Regions from separate parts of the Homo sapiens genome. Here region 1 is linked to region 2. A link means that fine-mapping ties the variant in region 2 to the expression of a gene that starts in the linked region. Tissue or cell type: neutrophils. Region 2 holds a variant in brackets; the other region holds the start of a gene. All regions are shown on one strand. Distances are between the middles of the regions.

Region 1 (8,000 bases), 53 kb after region 2:
TAGCCTCTAAAGGAAGTTAGCCTACAGAGCCAGGCCCCGGGTAGGAGGCACAAAAAAAGGAGGTGAGGCCCTGAGATAACCAGGAAGATCTGGGTTTGGGCTCCAGCTCTGGCAAGCTGCTTCCTTTCTCTGAGCCTCAGTCTCTGCATCTGTAAAATGGGGATCCCAGGACTTATCCCACATGGTGATTGTAAGACACAAGAGTAAAAGAGCCTTGAGAACTGGGCAATGTCAAGGTCAATGACTCTGTTTTGTTTTGTTTTACTTTATTTTATTTTATTTCTCTCTCTTTTTTTTGTAGTTGAGACAGGGTCTTGCTCTGTCACCCAAGCTAGAGTGCAGTGGCGTGATCTCAGCTCACTGTAGCCTCAACCTTCTAGGCTCAAGCAATCCTTCCACCTCAGCCTCCTAAGTAGTGGGGCCACAGGTGGATGCCACCACACCTAGCTAATTTTTTTTTTAAATTTTTTGTAGAGACAAAGTCTCACTGTGTTACCCAGGTTGGTCGCAAACTGCTGGGCTCAAGCAATCTGCCCACCTCGCCTCCCAAAGTGCTGGGATTACAAGCATGAGCACCCGGCTGAAGGGTACATGATTTCTATTAATAACTCGTATTTGACTTCTTGCTGTTGATATTAACCTCCATCACCTGGGCAATCTGTTATTTTCACTGAGTTTACAGCAGGGCTAGAGTAACAACAAATGTTGGCTGAACAAAGGCCAAGACTGGAAAATCTGGATGAGGGCAGAAGCAAATGGGAGGGGTGGTGAGGAAGACAAGAAGAAGCAAGCAGAAAGAGGTGGCCTGCGCAGGATGTCCCTCTGGTGTGGTTCACGCAGGCTTGGGCTGCTGGATGCCAGGCAGTTCATGTTCTAGCTTACTCGGTATTTACAATGGCCCTTTTACGGATGAAGAAACTGAGACCTGAGGGTGAAAACAACATGTCCGAGGTCACATGAGCCAGGAAACCTGTGAGTGGGCTCAGGTCTGTCTTAATTGCCTGATAAATGTTGTTTCTAACTCTGTTCCACAAAGGATTCATGATAGGTTATAAATAAAATACATTCAGTAAAACGACATGCAATACCAAATGGAAAATCAGAATCACGGAAAACAGAGTGGAAAATGTGGACAAGGAAAAAGCTGAACCTAAAGGCCAAGAAAGTGCCCATAGGCGAGTTTCTGATTTGGCTATGAGTTTCCTGGCAGCCAAAGAAAAAAGAGATACAAGCTGATTCCTGTTATTAAAAAGTAAAGAAGCAGTTTACACTTTCAGGAACTTCATAGTAAATTTTAAAATAAGCTAATCACATGGAAATTTCTCTGGTGAAAAATACTGGGAAATATAATGGATAATGTAATAATAATAAATGTCAAGTGGCATATCTTTAGAAATGATAGCCATATTTTTATATCTTATCCCTTGCCCAAAGTTGTGTTACTTGGGTTTGTTTTTGTTTTTGTTTTTTTGAGACAGGGTTTTGCTGTGTTTCCCAGGCTGGTCTTGAACTCCTGGCCTCAAACAATCCTCCGGCCTGGGTCTCCCCAGGTGCTGGGATTGCAGGCATGAGTCACCATGCCCAGCCAAGCACTTTATCTATATTAACTCATTTAAGTGTCACCACAGTCCTATGAGGGAGGTACTATTGTTATCATCATCCTCCTCATTTGACAGATGAGTACTGAGGCACAGAGAGGCTGAGTCACTTGCTCAGGGTCACAGAGTTGGGAAGTTCAGACTGGGGATCTGAAATGAGGTTTAGATCCAGAGATTTTACCCACTACATTATAGCATCTGTGAAATATAAGTGTTTAGCTACCAGATAATATGAGTGTGTTTTAGATGACATGTAAAGATTGAACAGATCCCAGCCAATTACCAGCACCAAAAGTAGTAACTGATGGGGACTTCGGCCACAAAGGGCAGCGTCTCTAAGGAGCTGAGGCTTAGAGACAATGTGAAAGTAGCTGTGGAGGGTGTGGCTCAGTCCCAGGCCTCAGAATTTCACATGTGGGGCTTCCCTTTTCCACCTCATCACCCCAAGATGACTTAACAATCCCCCGCCTTTGGCCAACCAAACGCAAGAGCCATATGAGTGACTAATGTCGTCTGGGCAAAGGGGGTCATGCCCAGGTGCTACCAGGCCAGGAGGCTTTTGTCGCCAGAAACCTGTGCGTGTTTATATTTCTCGTTTCTGCTCACCACAGGCCTTTGATTTACAAGGGTGGAGTTTCCAGAGCTGGGCACTGTTGCACCTTCATCTGGCTGTCATCACTTCCTCTGTGCAGCTGGGGCACCGGGGACTGAGGACGGGGCAGTCCACAGGGAGCTGTGGTTCCACCCCTTCACTCTTGGTTTCTGCCAGGCCCTCCTCTTGAACACTAGACCCAGATTCAACCCAGATTTCTCCTCCACGGCTGCACAGTGCCAGGAAGGGAACTGAGAAGACCAAAGTGGAGGTTCTTTACCTTCCCCAACACACTCGGGGCCAGGCGTGGCACCCACAACTGCAAATGAGACAATTAGGGAGAATAAGTGCTGGCTGCCCTGTCAGCCCAGAGCCTCAGTCTGCCCAGGGCACCCAGACTCTGTGAGGTTCCCACCTGAAGAAGCAGTTCCATCTTCCACAAGGAGCACAGGACCAAGAGTCCAGGACCCAGGTTCGAGGCCCAGCTCTACCACTTTCTCGCCGCGGGGCTCGGGTTCTCTGGAGGCAGCGTAATGGAGTCAGTGGGTTTGGCAAGGGGAAGATTCGCATTATGGCTCCCTCAGTCTCCAGGCAGGTGACTCAGGGCTGGGGGGAGGTCCTTTCTCCTCTCTGACCCTTGGTCATCTCATTTGTAAAGCGGAGGTGATGATTCTCATCTCAGGGACGAGGCACTGTGGGGTTAGGAGAGAATTTGTCAAGTGGCATGGTTGGTTTTTGGTCTGTCTAGGCCCCTCCCCCTCTCTGTAAGCTGGAAGCGGTACTTGTGAGGCTGAGGCTCTAGGTGGGTGTGGGGAGCCATTGGGGTAGTGAATGGAAGGCCCTGGGCGAAGGGCCCCAGGCAGCTGTTGAAATGTCACTCACCCACTGTGGACTTCCCACCAAGCAGAGCCCGCCAAGCCTTTCCCGTCTGAGGTGGGTTCAGTTTCACTACCGGGCTGAGGCAGGCATCTCAGGAAGGGGCCCTCGGCTTTTGTGTGCTGAAAAATAACCAGGCTCCATCTCTGCTGATTTCTGCTTGGGAGTTCCGTGAGCTTCCTGCATCATCTGTCCACAGACAGGCTGCCGCAGGGTGGACATCAGAGTCCCTGGGGTGGCTTCCGGCCTCCCTCCCTTGCCTCCCGCCTTTGCTCAAACATCTGTAGAGGCTCCAGCCCCAGACTAAGCCCTTAAGGAGACAGGGTCCCGTGAGACCCAGCCTCTGCCATCAGGGTTCTCCTGTCTAAAATGCTGTGTGCCTCAGTAAAAGGCAGCATGGGGTAGGGTGGCTGTGTGGGGACACAGAGCCAGGGACCAAATGCTGTCTGGGGTCCCTGGAGGGTGGTCAGGAGAGCTTGCCAGAAGGGGGAAATCTCTGAAATGAGACAGAAGGAGGAGGAGCCATCGCTTAACCACACCTGGGCGAGTTAACTTCCCCAAGCCTCAGTTTCATTCTCTGTAAAAGGAACCAGTGATACCTGCTTCTGAGGGAAGGGTGAGAAGCTTAAAAGAGATGGTATAAAAGAACTGACAAATCCCGTACACCAGCCGGGTGAATCCCTTACACCACCCACATGCCCCGGGGAGATGTTCTGTGAACTGAACTTCTTTTTCAAAAGTCTTTTCCTCTGGCAATCGACACCTGGTAACGTAGTGTAACCAAGTGTCCTGTTCTAGAAAAAGCCCAGCTGCAACCCAGCAGTAAGTGAAGCAGCCTCAGAGTCCCCTCTCTCTCTGGGATGGGTAATGGAAACTCCTCCACCCAGTGGGAGTGAGGCAGAAGTCTCCAGAATTCAGAGCTTTCCCATGCACCCTGCCTCCCCAGGGCCTGTGACCTTTAGATGTGTTCCCTGTTTCTGTAGGCATTATGAAGTTAGATGCAGGAGAGTTCTTGAGAACTTGAAGGCACTTCCCCTCTACTTGTCCCCCCTTTGATTTTAACAACCGTTTGTTGAGCACCTACTCTGTGCCGGGTGATGGAGAGTCTCTGTTGGACAGGCCAGACAAGGTCCCAGCCCCAGTAAAGCTGTGGATTCTGGAGAGGGACAGAGACAGTGATGATAAAGACATGGAAACAAAACAGTCTGCAACAAGTACTGTAAAGGAAAACAAACAGGATGCTGTAACAGAGAATTTGGGGGACTGCTTAGGGTTCCTGGGACATTTGAGGAGCTGGTAGGCTGAGATCTGAAGTTGGAGCTGACCATGGGAAGAGTAGAGAGGAGGAAAAAATGTTCCAGATAGAGACAACAGCAGCTACAAAGGTCTTGGGGGAAGAAGAAACTTGTAGAAACTGAGGAGTTGTGTGAGGAGGTTGGTGGGGGAGGGGGCGCTGGCAGCACAAGATGAGGGCCCAGAGTGGGCAGGGGCCATGGGGCCTGGTGAAGGGTTTGGATTTCATTCCAGGACAGTGGAGGGTTTTTAAGCAAGGGAGTGGTAATATCAGAATTTTTTTTTATTTTATTTATTTACTCAGACAAGATCTTGTTGTGTCGTCCACGCTGGAGTGCAGTGGTGCAATCACAGCTCACTGTAGCCGCCACCTCCTGGCTTCAAGCGATTCTCCCACCTAAGCCTCCCAAGTAGCTGGGACTACAGGCGCATACCACCACGTCCTGCTAATTAAAAATATATAATATATAAATATATATATATATATTTTCTTTTTGTAGAGATGGGGTCCGTGTTGCCCAGGCTGGCCTAGAATTAGACTCAAGTGATCTCCTGCCTCAGCCTCCCAAAGTGCTGGGATTACAGGTGTGAACCACTGAACCCAGCCAGATTTCTGTGGTTTGTTTGTTTGAGATGGAGTCTCACTCTGTCACCCAGGCTAGAGTACAGTGGCACAATCTCAGCTCACTGCAACCTCGACCTCCTGGGTTCAAGCGATTCTTCTGCCTCAGCCTCCTGAGTAGCTAGGATTACAGATGCATGCCACCAGGCCCAGCTGATTTTTTGTATTTTTAGTAGAGATGGGGTTTCATCATGTTGGCCAGGCTGGTCTTGAACTCCTGACCTCAAGTGATCTACCCAACTTGGCCTCCCAAAGTGTTGGGATTACAGGCGCGAGCGAGCCATGGTGCCTGGCCTCAGCCAGATTTCATTTTAAAGGCTCATCCTGGCTGCTGAGGGGGCTGTCAGAGGGCAGGAGTGGAAGCCAGGAGACCATCTGGAGCCATTGCCCTCACTGTCCCTGTGACGTCAGGCCCCTCACCCCTCTAAACCTGTTTATTCACACATATGTGTGACTGTGAGAATCAAATTTGGAATGAGCAGAAATGCACTTTGCAAAGCTGAAAAGTACGCATAAATGCAGGGATTCCCGCCTTGCTAGAAGCGGAGAGTCCTTTGGAAATCTGCTGGGTTAGACCTCTCTGGGGTTCTTGGTTGGGACAGTGCTGGGCCTGAGTCCCTAACTGAACACCTCATATCCGAGAGAGCCCCCTTTCCCTGCCTAGGGTTATAGGAGAGGGCTCAGGGGCTGGGGAGGGGGGCACCTGGCTGAGGCTCCGAGTCTTGAGGGGGAAGATGGGAAAGAAGGGTCCCCTTCCTGGCTTCTGACTCCCCCTGGAGCAATGGTTCTCTTGTGTTGCAGGGAGGGCGACACCTTTGAGCACGGGGGTGACCACCGGACCACCCTGCAGCCATCCAAATGCACACACACAGCTCCTTTCATCCCGTGTCAGGGAGTTCTCTGAAATTTTCTGAAACTCATTCACGAACTCTGGCTTAAAGGCCTCTGAGCTAGAAAGGGGAACTGAAAGGGGACACCTACCTTTTTACCCCACCTTTTTTGTCTGGTCTTTCTAGCATTAACCCCCTAGACACACCTAAGGGCTGATGCCGGGGGGAACCTGTCTTGATTGCTCTGGGCCACATCGAGGGCACCTTCCTGATACTTTTGTTATCTGCCACTGGGGACCCGGTTGTTGAAGGGGGACTTAAGATTTTCTCGAAGGAGGGGTCACTGTGAGGGCCTTTCCTGCCTGCTAGGGGCTTCAGTTTGGGGGCCCCCACTCCCGACCTCCGGGGAAGGGAGGGGTCCCCATCTCCCCCGGGCCTCTCGGGTCTTGGGGTCTCCCCGGGAGGCCGGAGGTTGGGAACCGGGCGCCGGCGAACCGATCAGGCCCCGCCCGCGAAGGTGGTGCAACGCCTGGCCCGGCCCATCCCATCCCGGCCACCCGGGCAGCGGGACCAGGCGTCTGGGGCACAGCATGCGGGGCGTGTGGCCGCCCCCGGTGTCCGCCCTGCTGTCGGCGCTGGGGGTGAGGCGGGCGCGGCCTGGAGGGCGGGGGCGGGAGGCGGGCGGGACCCCTCCCCGCGCGGGCCGCTCCGTGGGCCGGTCTCGGTCTCGGGTGTCCAGGCCGGGGCGGGGCGCGGCGGCGGCGGCGCCAGGGTCGGGGCCGCTTCCCCATTCGGGCGCGAGAGCCATGGAGGCGCTGAGGGAGTCCGTGCTGCATTTGGCCTTGCAGATGTCGACGTACAAGCGGGCCACGCTGGACGAGGAGGACCTGGTGGACTCGCTCTCCGAGGGCGACGCATACCCCAACGGCCTGCAGGTAGGCGCCCTCCGCTCCCTCCCGAGGTCCAGGCGCCCCGGGCCCGGGCATGCGCGCTGCCGCTGCCGCGCCCCCCGCCCCTACCTACCCCGCCTCTTCCCCTCCCTTCCCCTCCCTCGTCCCGGCATCCGGGAGGGGCCGCGCCTCCCCGCAGCTGGAGCTCCGCGCTGAGAAGCCTTCCGGAGCCCACCAGTCTCCCCTCACCTGCCCCCGCCATCCCTAGAGCCTCCCGGCCACCTGCTTCTGGGGCCACAGCCCAGGTGGCAGAGTTGAAAGCACCCCCGAGACCCGAACTGGTCCAGTTCCCTTTCCACAGAAGGCACAGTTTGTGCATGTCCCGGGACTTGCCCAGGCCCTTTACCGGCAGAGTCTACGGCTGTTTCTGTTTTAGCGTGGAAAGCCCTGCATCCCTGGAACCCACTCCCCCAGTCCGGGGCAAACTGGGAAAGTTGGTCACCTTATCCGGGAGGCAGTACCACCCTCTTCCTCTTGCCCTCCCAATACCTGAGTTTCCTGGGGCCAGAAACCTGTTCTCTGCCCCCTCTCCCTGCCCCTTTTCCAGCCTACTAAGGAAGTCCAATTCCTCCCCTCCCCAGGGTCTCCGCCCGTGGGCATCCCATCTGCCCACTCCTGGGGAGGGCCCCACCCCCGTCCCTGCCTTGTAACAGGACATTGAGCAAGGCTGCTTTCTGCCCTCCCGTCCCTGGGGGGCTGCACTGGGACAGTTGTGGCCAAGACCTCAGTGCTGGAGGGGTTTGGAGCCAGCCAGGTGCGTGGGAAGGTGCTGGAAACGCTGCGGACACCCTAGGAGACCCAGTGATCTGGCTCTTGAGAAGCCAGTGTAGAAAGAGGAGCTGGGGCACCCCAATTCTCGGAGGACTTCTGCCAGGTAGACCAAGGGAAGTATTTGGGAGAATCTTGGGGCCACTTGGTGAACTGGCACACAACTCTTCCCAAAGGCGAGCTTAGGATGAATGGACGCTTAGTTGCCAGGCCCACTCCACTCAGATACGCCTCTTAGAAGCGGGAATAATCCTCCCAGCGCAGGGAGACACCATTGATGGAGTTCCTCCTCCAGGGTCACATAGGCCCAGGGGACCCAAACTCACAGTCCCAAGGGCTCTACCCACTGGGATGTGTGGTACCCCTGCTTAACCTTCAGGAACACCCCTGAGACCTGTAGGGATTACTGTCCCCACTTACAGATGTGGAAACTGAGGCTCTGAGAGGGGCAACCACTGGCCTTCGGTCACC
Region 2 (8,000 bases):
ATTCCTTTTGGATCCTGGTGAGTCCTGAGGCTGCATGGCTGGAAACCCACACCTAAACTACAATGCCAGGTATCTCCAGGGTCTCACTTCCTGGCTAATCAGAACCCTTGGCCACAGTGATTGGCAGAGGAATTGACACATGTCTCAGTGACAGTCGACAAGACTCAGTTTTGGGAATGTTAATTAGAACTGTAGGAAAAAGTGAGTCCCTGTTTCCGCTGGGAGTTGATAAGAGAGTAGGATGTGAGCCACTGCTGAGGGCAGCCATCTTGTCATCATGAGGCCAAGAGGTGAGGCCAGCAGGGAGGGAAGCGGTCTTCAGAGATGGAGTAAATGAGACTGAATCCTAATGTCATCATCTGAGCTCCTCTTGGAGCCATGCCTAAAGCTAGCTCTGCCCCTGTACTTTGTAGTTACACAGGCTCTGTGTAACTCAATTGGCTCTGGCCAATTCAGGTTGGTTTTCTGCGTTTGAGCCCTGATGCTCCGATGGGGCAGACCCTGTGCCCAGAGGCTTGAGTATTTGGAAGGGGCAACTCCCCACATCTCATCCAGTCTCCAGCAGTCTAACAGGGGACACCTTCTCCTGTCATGAAACCACTTGTGTCTGTCAGAGGGCATGGCGAGCCCATGAATACCAACAGAAGCAGCTGCATGCCAGCAAAGGAGCAAAGCCCCTCAAACTAGCTGTGTCTTCTCGGGCAAATCACTTTCCCTCTCTGAACATTGATTTTCTCACCTGCAATATGGAGGTGATGTGGGAATCCTAGCACCTACCACATAGAATTGTGAGAATCACTCAGATAATGCTGCAAAGCACCTGCCACCATGTCTGGCACATAATAAATGCTTAGCATTTGTTATGGCTGGCCGTTCCCAGAAAGCTGTTTGGATGAGGTGATCTCTGAAGATCCTGGAGGAGTTGGAGGTAAGGGTCAGAGTCGGCAGCAAACCTCACTTGCTTGCTTCCGTTTGAGCAGCATAAGACCAGGGGCTGCGTTTTCTGGAGCAGCCTGGTAGAATGGAAAAGACTCAGCCATCACCTTGGGAGGCCTTGGTTCTAGTCCTGATTCTGCTGTCAAGCCGGGTGAGTGGCTTTGGAGTGGGTTTGGGCATGCTGCCCCTCACTCCCTGCCCGCCCCGCCCCATCCTTAATGTGCCCCTTTCAGAAGCAAGAAAGCCACAGCCTTTCTCCTCTGCTTTCTTCATAGAGCCAGGAGAACCACACCTTACTCAATATAGTGTCCCCAGTACTCTGCCCTGAGCTGATACAGCATTCCAGAATGTCCATTTTATGAGTGATTAAAATGTGGTCATAATACCTATACCTGACCTTCTGATTTTTTTTTTTTTTTTTTTTTTTTTTTTTTTTTGCCGGATTCTCACTGTCGCCCAGGCTGGAGTGCAGTGGCTCGATCTCAGCTCACTGCAACCTCTGCCTCCCACGTTCAAGTGATTCTCCTGCCTCAGCCTCCGGAGTAGCTGGGATTATAGGCACCCGCCACCCTGCCCAGCTAATTTTTGTATTTTAGTAGAGATGGAGTTTTGCCATGTTGGCCAGGCTGGTCTCAAACTCCTGATCTCAAGTGATCCACCACTGAGCCCTGCCTTTTTTTTTTTTTTTTTTTTTTTGAAATGGAGTCTCTCTGTCACCTAGGCTGGAGGGCAGCGGCGTGATTCAGCTCACTGCAACCTCCGCCTCCTCGGTCCAAGCGATTCTCCTGTCTCAGCCTCCTGAGTAGCTGGAATTACAGGTGCCCACGACCATGCCCGGGTAATTTATTTGTATTTTTAGTAGAGACGAGTTTTGTCATGTTGGCCACACTGGTCTTGAACTCCTGACCTCAGGTGATCCGCCTGCCTTGGCCTCTCAAAGTGCTGGGATTACAGGTATGAGCCACTGCACCTGGCCCTTTTTTCTTTTGGAAACTTCTTGTTAGAGAGTAACAGAGACAGAAAAGCACATAGATCCTAAGGAGACTGCTCAATTTTTCACAACTGAACTACTCCCTCCTCCGTACCTAACCCTTACTAGCACCCAGAAGCTTCCCTGGTGCCCCTTTCCAGTCATTCCCTCCCCAAAGATAACACAAACCTAACTTCTGACAGCACAGGTCTAATTTTGCTTATTTTTTGAACTTTTTGTAAATGGAGCAATGCTTAAAGGCTTTCTAGCGGTTTGTTAAGTTACAAAAGGCCCACGAGGTATATTAACTCCTTAAATCTTTACAACAGTACAGTGAGGTGGGTAAGAATTATGAACACCATTTTACAGAGGCAAAAACGGGAGCTCAGAGAGAAGAGAACATAATCACATTGCTGGCAAGTGGAGTGCCAGGATAACTGGGTTTCATTTTTGTGTGTCCCTGGATCTTCAATGTCTCTGCAGGCATCAGGCTATGATTCTTAGGAAGACACTTGAGGAATAGTCAGGAATCGGACACCAGGCCAGGGCAGCTGATAGTTTAAGTACCCCATGATGGAGGGGGGCTCTGGACCTTCAGGTCTGGTCACCTTGCAGACACGGCCAGACCCTCCCCCCTTCACCATGCTCCCAACTGCTGCACTCAAGGAGCTTTTCGACCTCCCTGAGTCCTCCACACTGAAGAATTTGGAATGCTGCTGGAAGGAAGGAGCAACATAGAGTTATTTCCACAGAGCCCCTCCCCGCCCTCCAGGTTCCCAAACAAACTGCCCAGGAACAGATGGTCCGCTTTAGAATGACTCTGTGTGCCCAGACGCATCCAGGGCCACTCTGGGTCAGCACCTGGGCAAGGGTTGCAGTCAGTTGCTCCTCCTCTTCCTTGCTGGCAGTAGGTTCTGTTTCCAAATTCACCCTGGTCACCCACCACTACAGCCTCCTCACCCCCGTTGGCTGATAGGCAGGATTCCCCGGATCTTTCCCTCTGGCCTCACGAGCATTCTGTCTGGCCTAATGAACTCTTAGACATCCTTCAAAGCCCAAATCCCAATGCCGCCAGGATGTCTTTCTCCTGAACATACACTCATTATGCCCCCTACACAGTAGTTTCTCTTTCTCAGCCCAACCCAAATATAGATGATCACAAAAGTCACACAACAGTCACACACAAAGACCACAGTGTCACCACACACACAATGTTTTTATCTCGATGTCTCTTGCAAACTGGGTTACACACAAAGTTGTACCAAATCACAGCCATGTCCCTCTTTTGTGTGGGCACGTACAACACACGCAAACTACACCACAAAAACCCAGGATTTTTTCACAACTTGTTTACAACAGGGACACCACATTTCTTTCTACCACATTAACATGCATGTACAACAGGACCCAAAAGTGGAGATCACACATCACACACACACACAGGCAGGCTGTCTTCTGTTCCTTCCTCCTTCCCTTGACCTCACAAAACCTACACGTGGAGACAGTGTCTCTCCTGGACCTGCAAATTCACACGCCTAGAGAGCCACGGCTCCTTCTCTCTGCTTTGCTACCATTCCCTCCCTCACCCCTCTATCACGGGGACACACACACACACAGCAACAAACCCCAAATACAGCGGACACACACACACAGCAACGAACCCCAAATATAGCAGACACACAAACACACAGCAATGAACCCTAAATATAGCGGAGACACACACACAGCAACAAACCTCAAATATAGCAGACACACACACACAGCAATGAACCCCAAATATAGTGGACACACACAGAACAAACCCCAAATATAGTAGACACTCACAGCAACGAACCCCAAATATAGCGACACACAGACACACGGCAACAAACCTCAAATATAGCGGACACAGGTTGTCCTGAAGTCCCTGGACGGCAACGAATCCCAAATAAATCAGTCAGGGCTTTCCTTCACATATAAACACACGGGCACGCGGAATCCACCCCTCCCCCACTTTCTGTCTCCTCATCTCTCTTCCTCTCTTACACACACACACACACACACACACACACACACACACACACGGCAACAAACCCCAAATATACCGGACACACACACACAGCAACAAACCTCAAATACAGCGGACACACACACAGCAACGAACCCCAAATATAGCAAACACACACACGCACATATACACACAGAGCAACAAATCCCAAATATAGTCAGGACTTTCCTTCACACATAAGCACACGGGCACGCGGAATCCACCCCTCCCACCGTTTCTGTCTCCTCTTCTCCTCCCTCTTACACACACGCGCGCGCGCGCGCGCGCGCGCACACACACACACACACACACACACACACACACACAAGCAGCTGCAGCGCCCCGGGTCACACTCCAGTGCAGGAGCCAGGCAGGAGACAAAGGTCGCCGAGGCTCCCGGCGGCCCCACCGGACACAATCGAGCCTCTTCCCGGTTCTGCTAGCTCCCAACGCCGGTCTCGGCAAGGTCTGGACCCTGCGCCCCGAAGCAACAACTCCCGCCTGCTCCTGCCCTCCAGG[T/G]TCCCCGCGCAGCCCGGGCAGCCGACTCCCAGCGCGCCAAGGGTTAAGGGCCCGCGCGGGCGCGGGGAGTGCAGCCTCAGGCCGTGATTGGCTGCGCCACCCAGGCCCCCGCGCCCTGCCATTGGCCCCGCGGCGGCCCCGCCCCTCCGGCACTCGGCGCCGAAGCCGCGAGCTCGCCCGCTGGAGCTGAGCGCGCCGCCTGGGCCAGGCAGCCGAGCCGTCCGAGCAGCTGGGCTGGGAGCAGGGAACCCGGAGCTGGGAATCGGGAGCCGGGCGCGGGGAGCTGCGCGAAGCCGGGGCGGAGCACGCGAGCTATGGTGAGTGCTGCGCGCGGAGGTCTGGTCCGGTCCAGCCCAGCCTCGACGGTCGCGGGCAGCGGTGCCGCGGGTGGCACCCGGGGCCGCCCTGGCTCGCGGGGGGCTGGGCGCCGGCTGCAGCAGCAGCCCCCGCCCGGCTCTCGGAAGGCGTGGAGTCGGGGAGCGCCCGGGCAGAGCGCGGCTCTCCCGGCGGCGCTGCGCTTGGTCCCGTCGGGGGCGGCCGCGCCGAGCTTGGTTCTGGTCCCAGCCGGATGTGGGGGGCTCGGGGTCCCCGGTTCGCTTTGGGGACGGTTGCTGCGGTCTGTTTTGGGTTGTTCTGAAGTCCCTGGACTCAGCTTGGCTTGGAGACCCAGGGCAGCCGGGCTGGGTCGGGCTCGCGGGTGGCGGCGATTTCGAGGTGCCTGGATGCAGCTGGACCTGAGCGTCCCGGGACACTGAGGTCGGTCTGGGGCTCGCCTTGGGGCACTGTGGGTGGCCACGCCCGGCGCATTCGGAGGGCTAGGTTGCGGCCCTCTGGGACTGCTGATCCAGCTGTGGCCTAAGGGGTGTATGTGGTGGCGACGCAGCTAGGTCGGTGCTGTCAGAGACCAGGGGACACTCAGGGGCCCTGCACCCAGCGATCCGGTCTCCCCAGCATCTCCCGGTGATGGGTCCTCAGAGGAGGGGCTTGCTGAGGCCGAGTGCTGACTGCGATAGGCAGGAGTACCAGGGAGAAAGGGAACTGGGGAGGGGCGTTTCATGGGGCTCTCTAAAGCCCCAGAAGAGAAATCCATTTGATCCAGGCTGGGCTTCCTGGGGGGGGGCTGTTGGGAGGGGCATTGTCCCTGGACCCCAAGAGCAAAGGCCCTTTGTCCACTTGTCCAGGGCCGGGTGCCGGCCTCTCCATCACGGGAAGGGAGCCATCTACTTCTCTTTGGTTTCTTTCCCTATAGACGAGCCACTCGGATTCCCTCTCCTAGTTCTGTTCTGTGCCCTGTGAAGTGGGTCAAAGTCACCATGTAGGGCTGAGGAGGGCATGTGCCTGGGATGGTGGCTGCCAGTACCTGTGATCCAGCCCCTCCACTTCTCTGTGATGATGCTGCCAAGCCCGAGGGCGCCTGGATGGGAGCAGGATGGGACCCCCTGTAAAGCCGAAGAGTCCCACAGTGGTTCCCAGCCCCTGCTGTGCCCAGAGCTGGAGTCCCCTTACAACCCGCCCCCCCATCTCTCCCTTCCAAGGCCTCTTCTCACCCAGCTAGGGTCTTCTTTGCTTAGGCACCGCCAGTTGCCTCACTAGAGTCAGAAGTGGTGGAATTATGGCTTAGTTCTATACCTGAAGGTGCTTAGAGACCACGTGAGACTCAACCTACCTCCTCCATTAGGAATCTCCCCTGTAATGCCCCACCCAGACCGTTTCCGACACAGGGAGTGCACTATCTGTGGACCAGCACTGGATTTAAAGTCTCAGTGTATGGGCACCAAAAGGCCGTGAGACTTTGAGGTTGTATGATCCCCTCTGCCTCTAAGCCCACCCTGAGTTACTCATAAAGAAAATTTTTTCTTCCTTAAAAACCACCAAAAAAAGAAAGAGGTCCCCTCACTTTGCCTTGGTGACACTTTATAGATCCTTACAACTGAAGAAGCCCACCAGCCTATTGTGAAGAGTCCAGGCTTTGACGTCACACCAATTTGTGTTTGAACCCCATCCCCTCCACTTCCCCACAGGGACTTTGGTCTAGGTGAAGCATCACCCTTGAGTTTCAGTTTCCTCATCTGCAAGATGAGATGATAACACTTACCTCCAAAGGGTGAGATAACCCAAGTGAGAGTGCTTTGCTTCAGTACTGCTTAGTTTTCTTTTCCAAGCTTGAGCCCACGCTGGGAAGTTCTACCTAACATCTAACCTATTTGCCCCAGGGGTTGTCTCTGGAATCCAAAACAAAAGTCTGTCATCCATCTGTCCAGGGCTATGGGCTGGCTTTTCCAGCACAGGGACAGAGGCCACCTATTTGCTGGTCTGGAAGACGAATGAAAGTTTATCATGTTGTAGGGAGGAGACCGTGATACTTTCGTCTGTCATTTAGCCAGGACGTGTTGAACACTTACTCTAAGCCAAACCCCATGTGAGGGAGGAAAGAATTGACTGAATAAACAGTGTTATGGGAGCTTCCACCAGGCCATAAACGTCTGCACTGGTCCTCAGACTTTTTGGCACGTCCTTGGAGAGGTAGAAATATGCCAGGCAGGGGCTCTCTCCAAGCTGGAGAGACGAGAGAAAGCTTCATGGAGCAGGTGACATCTGAACTGGAAGGGGTGTCCCGGGAGGGGGACCTGTGTGACAGAGGAGCAGAGGTGTGAGTGCACAGGACAGGCTCCTGGAAAGGCCAGAATGGGGCTGGTCTGGCACCTGGCTATGAAAGGGTCAGGAAACAAAAGAGAAAGAGGGCAAAAAGGTTGCTGGGGCCAGAAAGTACTAGGCTGAGGAAGTCCACGGTGGATTGTTGACCGGCGGTGCATGCATGGGGTGGCGGCTGATGTCAGGCCTCCCTGGCTCCTGTCATTTTAATTTCCTCTAAACATTGGTTCCTGTGCTGTCATTCCTGAGGCAGGGGTGATTCGGGACTGATCAAGTGTTTATTCCCTGGATCTCCTGCTCCGCGGCTTTTAAACAAATCCAGCACTCACTTCTTTGCAGTGTGGCCAAGTTGTCCTTGGCCCCTGGGTTCCTAATGCGGCGCGTTTGCAGGGCGTGTGTGTGTGTGTGTGTGTGTGTGTGTGTGTGTGTGTGTATCTGTGTGTGTCTGTGTGTCTGTGTGATGTGTTTCCTGTTGTCCTCACTGAATCTCCCTGATGGTCACCAGCTCCCCACCCACGTCTCTAACCCCTTGGCAGGGAGTCAGTGCTGTTCTTAAGGGCCTCGGATGGACCGTCTCCCCCTGTTTTCTCCCAGTGCAAGCCGTGGGCCGAGGGTTCTGAGGAGGCTTTTTATGTCTCCTGCCTCCGGTTGTACTCAAACCACCCTGCAGCAGGCACAGAGAGGTGAAGGAGGTTGCCCAGGGTCACAGAGCAAGATAGTACCAGAACAGGCACAAACCTCCTGGACTTTTGGAGGGGTAACCTGGCAGACAGTTGGGGGAAGGAGACCCAACCCATCATCCCCCATCTGCAGCTGTGGCACCTTGAGAATGTTCCTTCACTTTCCAAGCTGGGGCTGAGTTGAGGCTACCGCTGAGGGTTGGGAATGCTCTTTACT

Which allele goes with the higher level. Alleles are on the strand shown, and positions count from the first base shown. SD is a standard deviation of normalised expression in the study named.
For the expression in neutrophils of the gene that starts at base 3,526 in region 1, T is the high allele of the variant in region 2 and G is the other (moderate effect, 0.45 SD a copy in BLUEPRINT).

What was found. PIP is the estimated chance that this variant, and not a neighbour inherited with it, causes the effect.
Region 1: ECE1-AS1 starts here. The variant in region 2 is fine-mapped to the expression of ECE1-AS1 in neutrophils (BLUEPRINT, PIP 0.95).

What each region holds. Positions count from the first base shown.
Region 1 is chr1:21,288,816-21,296,815 of GRCh38, reverse strand. It overlaps ECE1-AS1 (ECE1 antisense RNA 1), which reads right to left and starts at 3,526. Exons shown (of 3, transcript NR_038404.1): 1 at 3,073-3,526; 2 at 2,606-2,882. It overlaps ECE1 (endothelin converting enzyme 1), which reads left to right and starts at 6,353. Exons shown (of 19, transcript NM_001397.3): 1 at 6,353-6,452; 2 at 6,660-6,746. The coding sequence starts at 6,402. RefSeq lists enhancers at 1-245, 1,950-2,109, 1,449-2,648, 3,490-3,579, 7,348-7,909 and silencers at 6,272-6,451, 6,502-6,671.
Region 2 is chr1:21,342,144-21,350,143 of GRCh38, reverse strand. It overlaps a transcript of ECE1 not described here. Among named protein-coding and RNA genes, the nearest start is that of ECE1-AS1, 53 kb to the right of the region's middle. RefSeq lists enhancers at 4,234-4,283, 4,294-4,343, 5,044-5,423, 6,168-6,257, 6,808-6,857 and silencers at 4,494-4,683, 4,804-4,913. The variant T/G (reference allele first, on the strand shown) is at 4,452.